Linked DNA regions of Homo sapiens. The protein of the gene in region 3 purifies or fractionates together with the protein of the main gene of each other region. This does not show direct contact. Each region holds a gene or a part of one and is shown on either strand. Other genes may lie near its edges.

Region 1 (4,230 bases), on a different chromosome or scaffold from region 3:
ATGTTTTAAGTTTCTTTTTTTTCTTTTTTTTTTTTTGATACGGAGTCTCCCTGTGTCACCCAGGCTGGAGTGCAGTGGCGCGATCTCGGCTCACTGCAAGCTCCGCCTCCCGGGTTCACGCCATTCTCCTGCCTCAGCCTCTCCGAGTAGCTGGGACTACAGGCGCCCGCCACCATGCCCGGTTAATTTTTTGTATTTTTAGTAGAGACGGGGTTTCACCGTGGTCTACGATCTCCTGACCTCATGCTCCGCCCGCCTCGGCCTCCCAAAGTACTGGGATTACAAGCGTGAGCCACCAACGCCCGGCCTGAATGTTTTAAGTTTCAAGGAAAAGACCAATTTGGCAGCTACTCTGCTACCTCGTCACCTCCAGGTGACGTTGGGAGTACTGGGGAGCTAGGTTTCCAGAACTTTTTGCTCTTGAGTGACCTAAGACCCTAGCAGAGTTTGGTCAGTGTGATTAAGAATGAGCCTCTGTGGGTCTGTTTAGGATGCTTGCCCCCTCCCATTTCCTTAACTTGCCTGAATTCCTGCTGGGAATACAGATTCGGGGCCCTTCCCACTCTGTAAATATGGGAAAAGGTCTAGGAAGTATATACTCCTAGCAATAATATGTAGGGGTTCTATGACTAGGAAATTTGGGGAACTGTCCCCCTGACCGCTCCATCCGTAACTTCTGCACACCTTTTGGGGTACGCCGCCGACCTGGAAAGCGTTGCAGGGCGCTCATGCTGCCCGCAGGTGGCGCCACGTGATCGCGAGCCGCAGAGAGCCCGTACCCTAGGAGTCTCGAGGCGCGAGGACTGCTGGTCCGCAGCTGTGCCGGGGCCACCGACGCCGCTTACCCCGGCGGAGCGCCGCGCAGGTGGAGTTGGGGACAGCGGCCGGTGCCCCGGCTTTTTAGGCTGTGTGCATCCCAAGCCGCCTCTAGTTGGCTTCTCGGGCTTCCGGGGCAGGAGGGCGCGCGGCTTTGTGCCTACGAATTGAGAACTGGAGAGCCAGTAACCGGTGCACCGGGAACCTGCCGCCTTGCGCCGCAGGGCTTTAGTCCAAACCTGGCCGGTCCAGGCTCCGGGATCTACTACAGGGGCCCCTGGGGAGCGCGGGCCCCAGGGACGGCTCCTTCCCATTGGCAGCAGGACGGATGCCACGCCCCTTTTTCTTCAGCTCTCATCTTTGACTGGCTCTCGAGTCCCAGATGGCCACGCCCCCTCCCCTCGCACATACACAAGAGTCACGCGCCTTTCAGTTGGAAACTTGGCGTGCAGACGGGGACGGTGGCTCTCGTCGCCCCACCCACTTACCTTGCCATTGGTCCGCGGAGCGGCACACGGTCACGCCCCCATTCCAGCCCCCTGGCTGGGAGGGCGGGCACCCGCTTGTGATTGGCTGGTCGGCCTGCCTCTCGCGGGAGCAGCCGGCGCTCCTCTCCCTCCCTCTTTCCCTCCCGCGAGCCTCGGGGTTCCTCAGCTGGCTGAGGTGGAGTCAGTGTCAGTCAGGGAGGCGAACTGCTGAGCACTGGCCGCGGACGCTCCGTTGCAGTCTCGCCCAGGGGCCGGTACCTGCGCTCGCGCCGCCGGGTTGAAAGGATGAAGCCGCAGCTGGAGCAGCCACCCTATGATTGGCTGTGGCGCTTGTGAACCCAAAGTAAAGATGGCGGGCGGGCAGGCAGCCGCCGCACTGCCCACTTGGAAGATGGCGGCGCGCCGCAGCCTCAGCGCTCGCGGCCGGGGGATCCTGCAGGCGGCTGCGGGGCGGCTGCTGCCGCTGCTCCTGCTGAGCTGCTGCTGCGGTGCGGGCGGCTGCGCAGCGGTGGGCGAGAATGAGGAGACGGTGATCATCGGGCTGCGACTGGAGGACACGAACGACGTGTCGTTCATGGAAGGGGGGGCGCTGCGGGTGAGCGAACGGACCCGGGTCAAGCTGCGGGTGTACGGGCAGAACATCAATAACGAGACGTGGTCCCGCATCGCCTTCACCGAGCACGAGCGGCGGCGCCACAGCCCGGGGGAGCGCGGGCTGGGGGGCCCCGCGCCGCCAGAGCCGGACAGCGGCCCCCAGCGATGCGGCATCCGCACCTCAGACATCATCATCTTGCCCCACATCATTCTCAACCGCCGCACCTCGGGCATCATCGAGATCGAGATCAAACCGCTACGCAAGATGGAGAAGAGCAAGTCCTATTACCTGTGCACGTCGCTCTCCACGCCCGCCCTGGGCGCCGGCGGCTCGGGGTCCACGGGTGGCGCCGTCGGGGGCAAGGGTGGCTCGGGGGTGGCCGGGCTCCCGCCGCCCCCGTGGGCCGAGACCACCTGGATTTACCACGACGGCGAGGACACCAAGATGATCGTAGGCGAAGAGAAGAAGTTCCTGCTGCCCTTCTGGCTGCAGGTGATCTTCATTTCGCTGCTGCTGTGCCTGTCGGGCATGTTCAGCGGCCTCAACCTGGGGCTCATGGCCCTGGACCCGATGGAGCTGCGCATCGTGCAGAACTGCGGCACGGAGAAGGAGAAGAATTACGCCAAGCGCATCGAGCCGGTGCGCAGGCAGGGCAACTACCTGCTGTGCTCACTGCTGCTGGGCAACGTGCTGGTCAACACCACGCTCACCATCCTGCTCGACGACATCGCCGGCTCGGGCCTCGTGGCCGTGGTAGTCTCCACCATCGGTATCGTCATCTTCGGAGAGATCGTGCCCCAGGCCATCTGCTCCCGGCATGGCCTGGCTGTGGGGGCCAACACCATCTTCCTCACCAAGTTTTTCATGATGATGACCTTCCCCGCTTCCTACCCGGTCAGCAAGCTGCTGGACTGCGTCCTGGGCCAGGAGATAGGCACCGTCTATAACCGGGAAAAACTGCTGGAGATGCTCCGGGTCACCGATCCCTACAACGACCTCGTTAAGGAGGAGCTGAACATCATCCAAGGGGCGCTGGAGCTCCGCACCAAGACGGTGGAGGACGTGATGACCCCACTCCGGGACTGCTTCATGATCACCGGCGAAGCCATCCTGGACTTCAACACCATGTCTGAGATCATGGAGAGCGGCTACACCCGCATTCCAGTGTTTGAAGGGGAGCGCTCCAATATCGTGGACCTGCTGTTTGTCAAAGACTTGGCCTTCGTGGATCCCGATGACTGTACCCCCCTGAAAACCATCACCAAATTTTATAACCACCCCTTGCACTTTGTTTTCAATGACACCAAGTTGGACGCTATGCTGGAAGAATTTAAGAAAGGTGGGAAATTTTGGTCTCTTTCATTGGCTTGCTCTTTCTCTCTCCATCCTCCTCCCTACTTGAGTCCTCTACCCTCAGACCAACCCCCCAAGGCGAGTTGACCGGGATTTCTCCTTCTCCCTCTTAATTGCAAAGTTGAAAGGGTGGCGTGGATTTGGGGATGGATTGAACTAGTAAGTGCTACTAGGTTATTTTAAAGCACAAGACTGCCATCACTTACTTTTTCCCATTATCAAAAAGCAGGCTGTGTAATTTCTGTGCATGACACTTATTTATTTTTTTTTTTTTGGTCCCGTGTGTGGGCCTCTGTTCTTGAGGGGTCTGCCGCCTTCATTGTCTGGGTTCTCAGTGAGTAGGTGAAGGTAGGGGCTGGCTGATGCCATGCCATTTGGTGGACTTTAATCACAGGCATTTGGAAAACATGTAACTAGCTTTTGTAAACCCAGTGCAGTCCTTTTTCTCCTCCTTAAACATCCACACTGGCCTTTCAAAGATCGAAGTACATTTTCTATAGCTTCTGTTCCTGCTTGCCTGGCAACTTGTGGGGAAGATTGAGGTCTGCCTTTGAGGGTAAGGGGTGGGGTAAACTAAGTATCGCCAAAAAAAATCACCCATTTTGGATGTGACTTCTCTTAGCTAGAAAAGAGTTGTTGTTGTTGTTTTAAATTAAAGTTATTAATATGTAACTTGGAAAGATTAGAGGTTAGCCAGCCTTTTGTGAAGAGGCTGTATGTCCCGTAGCCTTCTTCACTATTTGTTTACATTTATCTGACAACAGTTACAGTTGCCCAAACCAAGTGTGATTTTGGCAGAAAGCTTGAACCTTTAACAGTGGGATGAATCCCTCTATTGGGGCTTATTTATTTCTTGACTCTTTCAGTTTAACGTGTTCTTTTTTTCCACCTTGATCATCCGATACATTAAGTTGAAGTATGTCTCCGTCAACTCTCACCGTTCCAAGATGCTTATACAGTACATCATTTATATTTGTT
Region 2 (3,500 bases), on a different chromosome or scaffold from region 3:
AAGTAGCTGGGATTACAGGCATGAGCCACCATGCCCGGCACAGGTACATTTATTATGCTATTTAAATGGTTTACGTTTTTAAATTACTGTATATTACCTATTTATTGCTCACGTATACTTCTTTTCAACAGTTTTCGTATCCTGAAACCTGCCAAATTGTTACTAATATCCTAGCAATTTATCTACATTTTTGTTTTCTTCCTTTCCAAAATTCACACTTTTTATTTTTCTTTCCAGCTTTATCACTGCAACTAGAACCTCCAGTACAATCTAAAGTAGAAGTTATAACACAATGAGCAGAAGGGTGTGACAGCCATTCTTGCCTTATTCCTGGCTATGAATAGAGAAGTTTTAACACTTCATCATTAAGTTCAATCTTCATTTTAGGTTTTTTATAAATATCCCACATCAGATTACAGAAGTTCTCTTCTGTAACTACATTGCAAAGAGGTTTTATCACAATAGATGTTGAATTTTACTACATGTCTTTATATCTGTTGAAATGATCATGATTTTCTTCCTTTAATCCATTAATATAGTGAAATTACATGTTAAACCAATCTTGAATTCCTTGGGATAAACTCGATTTGGATATGAATAATCATCTTTTTATACTATGCTGAATTGTTTGTTAATGAGGATGATAATTTTTGCATCCATAATCATAAGGTTGGTATATAATTCTCCTATATTGTACTATCCTTAACAGACTTTTGGTATCAAAGTTATGCTATCTTCATATGATTTGGAGAATACTGCCGATTGTTGGGTTTTTCTCTGCTATATTTTGAAATGGTTTAAGTAGGACTGAAATTATTCTTTGAATGTTTGGCAGAACTAGAGAGTTAAACCATCTGGGTCTTTACTTTATGGAAAGATTTTTGCCAGCCAATTCAATTTCTTAAATGACTATAGAATAATTCAAGTTTCCTATTTCTTCTTGACTCCATTTTAGCAAGTTATGTTTTCCAGACATTTTTCCATTTTAGCACTTTTAAGTTTACTGGCACAGAGTTGTTCATTATATCCTATTATTACCTTATTAACTTCTGCAGCATTTTTCTTTCTGGGTATCACATATTTCTGCCTCCTCTCTTTTCTTCTTGATCATCTTGCTGGTGTTTTGTCAGTTGTGTTACTCTTCTTTAAAGTCATTCATTCAAAAATATTTATTTATATATACTATGCTTTCTATATGTCCAAAGTACAGTGAGCCACATTAGGAACATTACCAGGTCAAAAGTGTCAAATGTTCCTCAACAATGTCAATGAAAAACAAAACAAAAAAGTTTCCTAGTCAAGAGAATCAAAAATTGTCTATATTGCTAGTAATTGTTTAAATTAATAACTTTATATTTTTAGAGCACCTTTAAGTTTACAGAAAAATTGACTGAAGGTTCCCACATACTCTCTCCTCCCACCCACACAGTTTCCCCTATTATATCTATCTTGTATTAGCATATGGTGTGATACCTTTGTTACAACTGATGAACCAATATTGATGCATTATGATTAATTAAAGTCCATAGTTTACATTAGGGTTCACTCTTTGTATTTGTTAGCTGGGTTAATCTTTTCCAAAAACAAACTTCTGGCTTCACTGATCCTTTCTATAAAATGTCTGTTTACTATTTCATTAATTTATGCTTTACTATTTCCTTTCATCTACTTACTTCAGTTTTGTACTTTCTCTAAATTCTCAAGTGGGGAAAATATAAGCATTTCATTATTTCACTCAACCTAGTTTTCTTCAGCCTCCTCTAGATAGTATCTTGGGCCAGCTTCCCTCCCAACCCACACATCAATTCCCAAATCGATCTTCAAGTCTATTGGGTCTACCCTGTGGATTCAATTTTGCTTCTCCGTCTCCTCTTCTCTCTATTCTCTGTCACCTGATAAACCCTATTGATCATATCCTAAATTCATTATGGAAACGAATATATCTTTATTTTTCTACTGCCAAGTAAATTATTCCAAGCCCTTTCAACTCATAGCTACAAATAAAGATCTCTTTAATTTTATTTCCTCAAACGCTATTTTCAGGCTAGGTGTGGTGACTCACACCTGTAATTCCAGCACTTTGGGAAGTCAAGGCAGGAGGATTGCTTGAGCCCAGGAGTTCAAGATCAGCCTAGGGAACATGGCAAAACCCTGTCTCTACAAAAAATTAGCCAGGTGTGGTGGTGTGCACCTGTAGTCCCAGGTACCCAAGAGGCTGAGGTGGGAGGATCACCTGAGCCCAACAGGGCGAGGTTGCAGTGAGCCGTGCATGATCACACCACTGCACTCTAGCCTGGGCAACAGAGTGAGATCCTGTCTCAAAAACAAAAACCAAAAAACCCACTATTTTCATCACAATCCTCAGGCACAAGCAGCTTTCCTTTGATACTTAGGTTAACTTTTAAGGTCTTCTATAATCTTATTCTCCCTGCCAGTATGTTTTCTCTGTCACTAGTCTCTAGGCAAACACTCCACTCAAATAGAGCACAACACACAAATTAGCCTTTATCCGTCTTATTTCCCACTACCTGGTAGCTTTTCTGTCTTCTCCTCAAACCACTCAACTCATTCACCTACAAAGAATCTCTTGCGCTGTGAAATCTTCCACAATGGTGTATCATTTGCTTGCTGCAAAAACTCACTTTTGCACTTAGGATAAAGCAATACAAAGCAATACAGAAGTAACTATTTTTCTCCTCAGCATTTTTATCTTGCAAAATGGATTGGCAGCTTTTAGACGCAAGAATTATGTTTTATACCCTTTTGGATGGCTGAAGAACACAGAAAATGGTTCATCACATTGTTGATAGCTAATACTGAAATGCAACAAGTATTTATAAAATAATAACATACCTTGCCTGCTAGGCGGCTGGAGATGATTCCATTGCTAGATATAAGACAGTCAGCCAGAGTAGTTTTTCCTGTTAAAATAGCAACATCAATTCAAATCTATATCTTTTTTAAAAGGGGTCATGGATCATACCTATAGATTTAAAATCTGGTCATAAGAATTGGTTTAGTAAAGATTTTCTATTTACCTATGCTAGGTGACAAAAGAGATTTATTAGACTTTTGAACAGAATATCATCTGGAAGGACACAGAGGCTAGCACTCTATAATGCTGTAATCTTATCTCCAACCCTGTGGATCTACTCAACCTCATCTGAAAAGTTGTCAAGTAACTTTAGAGAACATACTCTTTTGCCATATTTCCCCATGCATGGCCTCAGCTGGAATTTGCTAAACTGTCTTAAGAAAATACTTACTTATCAAAGAAATTCAGGAACATTATCCATATCTCTTACTGTTTGTAATATAGCATGTGGAGGGCATAAACATACTGTAACAACCAATGAAACCTAGTATCCAAATCTAAACCTAGGAATCTACTTTAAAGCAAAAGAATCTTCGAATATATTTATAGTTACTTTTATTAAGCAGACTACATACAACTAAAGTCTATGAGATTTTATGTGATATAAACAGGTGATTCTGTGTAA
Region 3 (3,500 bases):
GAATAAGCCAAAAATAAGATGCTTTTTTTACTGTTAAAAAAAATTTTTTGGCCGGGCGCGATGGCTTACGCCTGTAATCCCAGCACTTTGGAAGGCCAAGATGGGCGGATCACCTGAGGTCAGGAGTTCAAGACCAGCCTGGCCAACATGGCAAAACCCTGTCTCTACCAAAAATACAAAAACTAGCCAGGTATTGTGGCGCATGGCTGTAGTCCCAGCTCAGGTGGCTGAAGCAGGAGAATTGCTTGAACCTGGGAGGCGGAAGTTGCAGTGAGCCAAGATCGTGCCACTGTACTCCAGCCTGGGTGACAGAGTGAAACTCTGTCTCAAAAAAAAAAAAAAAAAAAAAAAATTTCATAGTTACTCCCTTGGTTATTCCCACTTTTCCACTTCCTCATTTAAGGAGGGAACTTGAGACTCAAGTCCCAGTACAGAAATCAATAATCAGTTCTATAAAAAGAAATCATGACCTTGATGGTGGGAAAATGTCTTAACATTTCAAAACCAGTAGAAGATACATGGCCAGCCACTCAGAAAGATAAGGGAAGCAATTAGTCAACAATCGCACCTGCTTCTGAGAACAGTGACAGTTATTCACTGAAGTCCTGTGGGCCCTGTTCCCACCAAAATGAAAAGGGAGTGGTTTTAGATGTGCATGTACCCCGGTGATTAACGGTTGTCCTTTTCTAGTAATTTCTACCTCTACAAATAACTATAAGACAAAAATTGCATTAAATATTTTCAGGCCACACTTAAAAATATTTACTTTACAATTTTGTACTCCATTTTTCCTCTAAAGATTTCCAATTCTCAAAATGAATCTCTTATCTAAAATTGGTATTTTTCCTTTCATAAATAAAATTTAAATGCAGGTTAACAGCACTATGGCCAACGCCGACTTTCTCTTTAAAAAGTATTGGAATAGCACTGGTAATAACATTAAAAAATCCTAACAGCACAATCCTTATATTGAGTATTAATCTAATTGTTTTCAGTTAATCTTTTAAAAATTACATTAAATAGTTTTACTAAATGGATTCTATTCATCCATACTTTTGTGACAAAAGTATCATGGCTATCTTTTCTATGGGGTTTATGTTTAAAGACTTCAGTTTATGTGCATTTTAAGACTCCCAAGCCCCTTTATTATAAAGTTTAAGCACATTCTTTTCCTAAATAACTTTGGTAACCTTCTTAAGAATAGGAACTATCTCCAATTCAGTTGCTTCCCCAGAAAGTTAAATCCTAACATTTGTTTTATTTCCTCCTCCCATCCTTCCTTCTTTAATCTCAAAAGGCTAATTTTTCCAGAGAACAATTTAAGTCTTAATCATTTTAATTTAGTTTCCAACATCACTGTATGTACATTAACCCAAGAACCATTGAATCAATAATTTCATTAATAAATAATTTAAGATTCTGAACTTCAATTGTAATAAAGCAAATTCAGTAGTAAAAATCCAAAAGAACACCTGGAGTCAGCCTGTCAACACCACATTGAAATGTTTTCTGAGCTATATCAGGACAGTTAAAATGGCTGTAACAGCTGCAAGTTCCCTGAGGTTGCAAAATAGATACTTGGGAAAGGTTATTTGAATCACCTTTCAAAATAACCTACAGCACAGGAGTAGCATGCAAAGCAAAAACTTTCCGGCTACTGTTCACATTACCTAAAATATACCATCTCGGGCCGGGCGTGGTGGCTCACGCCTGTAATCCCAGCACTTTGGGAGGCCAAGGCGGGCGGATCACGAGGTCAGCAGATCGAGACCATCCTGGCTAACACGGTGAAACCCCGTCTCTACTAAAAATACAAAAAATTAGCCGGGCGAGGTGGCGGGCGCCTGTAGTTCCAGCTACTAGGGAGGCTGAGGCAGGAGAATGGCGTGAACCCCGGGGGGGCGGAACCTGCAGTGAGCCGAGATTGTGCCACTGCACTCCAACCTGGGCGACAGTGAGACTCCATCTCAAAAAAAAAATAAAAAATACCATATCTCAGAACTTAGTAGTTTATGGGTCAACTTAACTCTTTTCATTTCCCCATTTTGTCAAATGTATTGAGCGTATTTAAAGGTCCTGTTCCAGTATTAATCCCCAAAGAGAGTGAGGGAAACTCTCTATGGACAAGACACAGAATAAAAACATCCCAAAATACATCTTGTCAACATAAATTATTTTGTTTGAGCCCCAGAAATGTTTCTGCTGTTCAGGCACTCTGATCCAAGTTTCCCCTATAACTGGGTAAGTTACACTTCACTTCCTCTCCTAAACTTGCTTTTTATAAATTACATTATAGTTCACAGACATATGTTTGTGTACTGAGTACAATACAAGATAAACAGTCAAGAATCCAAATCATTCTATTTGAAGCTGCTGGTGGCCTTTTAAAATGTACTGTCTATCCACTAATTGTCCAATAATGGCATCCTTTCACAAAACACAGTAACATTACGATCTTTAAAAACCACACAGTGAAAGTAAATATTTCATACTACATATTAACGTGAAATAAAAATGGTGAAATAACTCTATAATGCCATGTCAAGAAGTTATTCTTTACTCACTAGCTCAGCTCAACATGGATTCACCTTCCTTTTCTTCCCAATTAAAGAATGCAAAATTCAATCTTTCTCGTCCTCTTCCTCCAAATGTTTACTGAGATAAGGGACAATATGTCACCTCCCAATTATACCAAAATGCAGCACAGCCAATCTTCAAACAAGCATTTGCAGAGACGTGTGCACATCATACAAACACTATCCAGGATCAAGCTCCTAGAAGAATCAACGTGGGTGAAAAATGCTTGATTGGTATTAAGTTTTCATATTACCACCACAAATTTTAAAGATACAAAGTAAGCGTGAGAAGAATGGAGTAGGATTAAGACTTCTGAAGAAAGGTAAAACTTTTATAATAGAAAACTGGTAGAAACAGTGAAGGAACCATGGTAGTGTGACTTGAGAAAGGTGCTTAGTCTTTGGTTAGATAACTCTGGAGAAGCCTTGACCGGGCTGAGAATTTCAGACCAATTCAAATGCAATAAAAGCTCTTAGGAATTTCAAAGCAGAGTAGTGGTAAGAGAGCAACTCTTTGCTCACTGAGAAAAAGAGCAAATATTGCCATATTTATGGGCCTCCCCTGATCTACTGAGCAAGCAGCTCCGTAATTACCAAAAAGCTTAACAAAAATTTTCTTTCAACTTACTAAATCATAGTCAACAGATAACGAGTTTAACTAAATTCTACCTGTTGATGACCTCCAAATGAAGATCCAATCTAAGAAAACAATTGAGAATATAGCCTGTGACTTATATTTAAAGTACTTTTCACCCAGAAAGACCCAATTTGCATAATTTAAACTAATCACCAAAGGAAACTTGTTTGTAACCACACATGTGGAATGAAAATAATGTCACTAGAATCTATTGTTTCTCCATCATATCCTTCTCTATTTGCTGACAAATCCTGCTGGTGACTCATATCCTTCTGCACTAACCAGTC
Region 4 (3,500 bases), on a different chromosome or scaffold from region 3:
CCATAAATGGTGGCTGTTACAGAGAAGTATAAGCCTTACTTTCTAGGACCCTTAGCCAAACTTAGAAGCAAGCATTGACTTCAGTGTTTGTAAGGGGTCTGAAAGTATAAGTGCTATCTGAATGTGTTAACAGAGCATGAAGGTGCATTAGTATCTAAGTGTGTTGGCTAAAATTACTGTACGCCCTTACAAGAGAGCAGCATGAACTGTTCAGTTTCCATTGGGTCACTTGAAACCTGTTCAAGGGAGTCTTCTTTCAAAGCCCTCTAGGAAAATGATCCCATGGTCTGGGATTTTACACTTCTGGCCTGACATATTTGTACATTCCCTCCTCATTTTGTGTAGCCTCATCTGCAGCAGGTCCTCCATGTGTATGTCAGAAGCTGGACAAACTAGTACATCTGGAAGACTGCCATTAGAGAAAGGAAAATCTAATTATTTGAAATGTAGGAAGTTGACAACTTGAAGCGGGACTATAGTGAAGTATCCAGGAGGGTTTAGTGCAGGGTAGAATTTAAGGGGTCTGTGAGCATGAATAGGGGAAAAAAGTATTTATTTTCACTAATCCCCATCTGAAATTTAGTGTTTCCTTCTATTATGAATGTCAGCAACAAACTACACTATCTTCAGCAGCACTTGCTTGTACCTTTCACCAATAGAATCACTTATTTTCTTGCTACATATGGTTATCGCAGGTATCCTGAAACACCATTTTCACTCATCATTATCTTACGTAGTTGTCAGATTACAACTAGATCTTGCAGTTTTGAAGTGTTATAGAGCACATGTATTATGATATCACCAATTTTTTTTAATATTTTTATAATTGCATTTAAATACAATTGGTTTCTTTTGTAATTCTATGTATTTTCCTTTTTGCATTCAATAACACTCTTTTAAGAAGTCTGTAAGCTTCACCAGACTGCCAAAGAGATCTAAAGGTAGCCCTGATTTTTAGTGATTTTCTAAAGATGTCCTTCTACCATTCCACCAACTTTCTCAGTGTTACAGAACATCATGTATTTTATTTTCTTAGTTTCCAAGCCAGCGCCCTACTGGGAAGGAACAGCTGTGATCGATGGAGAATTTAAGGAGCTGAAGTTAACTGATTATCGTGGGAAATACTTGGTTTTCTTCTTCTACCCACTTGATTTGTAAGTAATACATGTAAATAGCTAGTAAAATCTCAGTCTTTATCAATTATTTTTCAGGAGTATCAAACAAATTATTTTGTTCAGCTCTTGGTTTTTAAAAAGGCAAGCTGAAGTAAAGAAATGTATTTAAAAAGGTAACATCTACCATATATTTCAGAGTCATAACACACCGACCTCAATACTTATGTCTACATGATTATGTTATAATGGAATAATTAGAGGAAAGCTACAATATATTCATTAAGCTATACCTACTAAGGCAAGAAAATGGACTGATAATATATTAGAAAGCATTTAATAGCAAGACCTATGCCATAATTCTTTTTACTGTATCTCTCTTGATTAGAAAATTAATTCTGTAATCCCAGCACTTTGGGAGGCCAAGGCAGGTGGATTACAAGGTCAAGAGATCGAGACCATCCTGGCCAACATGGTAAAACCCCATCTCTACTAAAAATGCAAAAATTAGCTGGGCGTGGTGGTACGCGCCTGTAGTCCCAGCTACTCGGGAGGCTGAGGCAGGAGAATTGCTTGAACCCTGGAGGCGGAGGTTGCAGTAAGCTGAGATAGTGCCACTGCACTCCAGCCTGGCGACAGCGAGACTCCATCTCAAAAAGAAAAGAAAAAGAAAATTAAGCCATTTTCTCTAGTGATACCATGTAACTGTGGTTTTTCCATTTTTATTCTTTGCTGCATCTGTTGCTTTTCTGGGATTTGAACATTTTGCTGAAAATATTATATACTGCTTAAGGAATAAGGAATAACACCTGTGTATATGTTATGGTTATTGTGGGGTTTCTCGTCTTTTTTTAACTCTGTGACAGTGAGCGTTTTTGTATATGGTCAGAAAGTTGACTAAAAGTAAATACCCTTACAGCTTTATTCACGTTGAGGATTTAATTTTATTTTACAAAACACTATTTTGAGTGTTTTTCAAAATTCATGAAAGTGAGAAGAGACCAAAAAGAGTTATGTCAATTTTTATCTTTTATTCTCTTGGAACTTACTTTTTGGTTACAACAAATAACTAGAAGTTTCCTCCTCTATCTTTGCCACTGTGCCTTTTTCCATTAGGACTAATCTGGAACTACATAGATCAAATTTAAACTTGCAGGGAGGGTATACTTAAGCTCATTGCTATAGGTTGTTTCTAGGCCAGGGATTAACAAATTTTTTCTGCTGGATTTGGCCTATTGACCTATTTGCCAACCCCTGCTCTAAGCCACAAAGGAAGAATTCTCATGAAAATTATTACATTGAGACTAAAGTTATGAGTCTGCATAATATATAATCTTTTAAATTATAAGAACTTGCTTCTTTCTAATCAACTCATATTGTGACTTGATTTTTTTAAGTATAGCTTAATTTCTAATAGAAACCAGAAGTAGAAATTTCAGTAGACATAAAAAATGACAGGCCTTCTAAATTCATGTTGTTATAAAACCAGAAGGTTAACATGTATGTTAAATATATACGACTAACACCCTGAATTTGGAAGTTAGTCTAATGTAGCAGAAAAATATGTTCTGTGTTTCTCCATTGTTATTCATAACTCCATAATGGGTAAGAGATAGTTAATTGGAGCATGTTGTTAGCAATGGTCTTCTGGGACAAGGAGCTAAGATAGCCTCTTCCTGTTTTCATGTAATGCTGGACTGTGCCTGGTTAGAGAAGGAAGAATTCTGGGGCATTTGCCACAGTCTACAAGGAGGAAAGTTACAAACGTAACCCTTCAGTTTCCTGCCAAAACTTTTTCTGTCTTCACTAAGAAGTTGGTCAAATGTATCTCTAGGTAGCATTCCTTGAAATAAGAAGAAAGGCAGAGGCTGGGTGCAGTGGCTCACGCCTGTAATCCCAGCACTTTGGGAGGCCAACATGGGCGGATCACCTGAGGTCAGGAGTTCTAGACCAGCCTGGCCAACAAGGTGAAACCCCGTCTCTACTGAAAATACAAACAAAATTACCCGGGCGTGGTGGTGGGCGTTTGTAGTCCCAGTTACTCAGCAGGCTGAGGCAGGAGAATTGCTTGAACCCGGGAGGCGGAGGTTGCAGTGAGCTGAGATCGCGCCACTGCACTCCAGCCTGGGTGACAGAGTGAGACCCTGCCACAAAAAAAAAAAAAAAGGAAGGCTGAGGCTGACCATTCCTACCCTTTAGAAAATATTAAAAATACATTTTATAGCCCAGGTTTCCAGGGACATCATCCGAGATTAGAACTGTCTACTTGGACATGACAGTGCTGTACCTGAATACCTGAAACATGTTAAAATCCTGTATTGGTATCTGGTAGGAACTTGTGCCCTAACTAAGTCTATGTTTTTCAAACTTTCTTGACCATGTCTCACA

What was found. Proteins that work in one complex are often made in the same cells at the same time.
Region 1: the proteins of PTP4A2 (region 3) and CNNM2 purify together in Homo sapiens (affinity purification with mass spectrometry; 5 studies listed by BioGRID and IntAct, with this or other methods). This does not show direct contact.
Region 2: the proteins of PTP4A2 (region 3) and EFL1 purify together in Homo sapiens (affinity purification with mass spectrometry; 2 studies listed by BioGRID and IntAct, with this or other methods). This does not show direct contact.
Region 4: the proteins of PTP4A2 (region 3) and PRDX4 purify together in Homo sapiens (affinity purification with mass spectrometry, with the first as the bait; one large-scale study listed by BioGRID). This does not show direct contact.

Annotation. Positions count from the first base shown.
Region 1 is NC_000010.11:102,916,864-102,921,093, forward strand, and holds the start of CNNM2 (metal transporter CNNM2), read left to right. Parts: upstream 1-1,430; 5' UTR 1,431-1,617; coding exon 1,618-3,238; intron 3,239-4,230.
Region 2 is NC_000015.10:82,256,235-82,259,734, forward strand, and holds part of EFL1 (elongation factor-like GTPase 1), read right to left. Parts: intron 2,922-3,500; coding exon 2,854-2,921; intron 1-2,853. UniProt on the Homo sapiens protein: GTPase involved in the biogenesis of the 60S ribosomal subunit and translational activation of ribosomes.
Region 3 is NC_000001.11:31,928,369-31,931,868, forward strand, and holds part of PTP4A2 (protein tyrosine phosphatase type IVA 2), read right to left. Parts: intron 2,775-3,500; exon of another isoform or gene 2,565-2,774; intron 1-2,564.
Region 4 is NC_000023.11:23,670,493-23,673,992, forward strand, and holds part of PRDX4 (peroxiredoxin-4 precursor), read left to right. Parts: intron 1-1,036; coding exon 1,037-1,154; intron 1,155-3,500. UniProt on the Homo sapiens protein: Thiol-specific peroxidase that catalyzes the reduction of hydrogen peroxide and organic hydroperoxides to water and alcohols, respectively.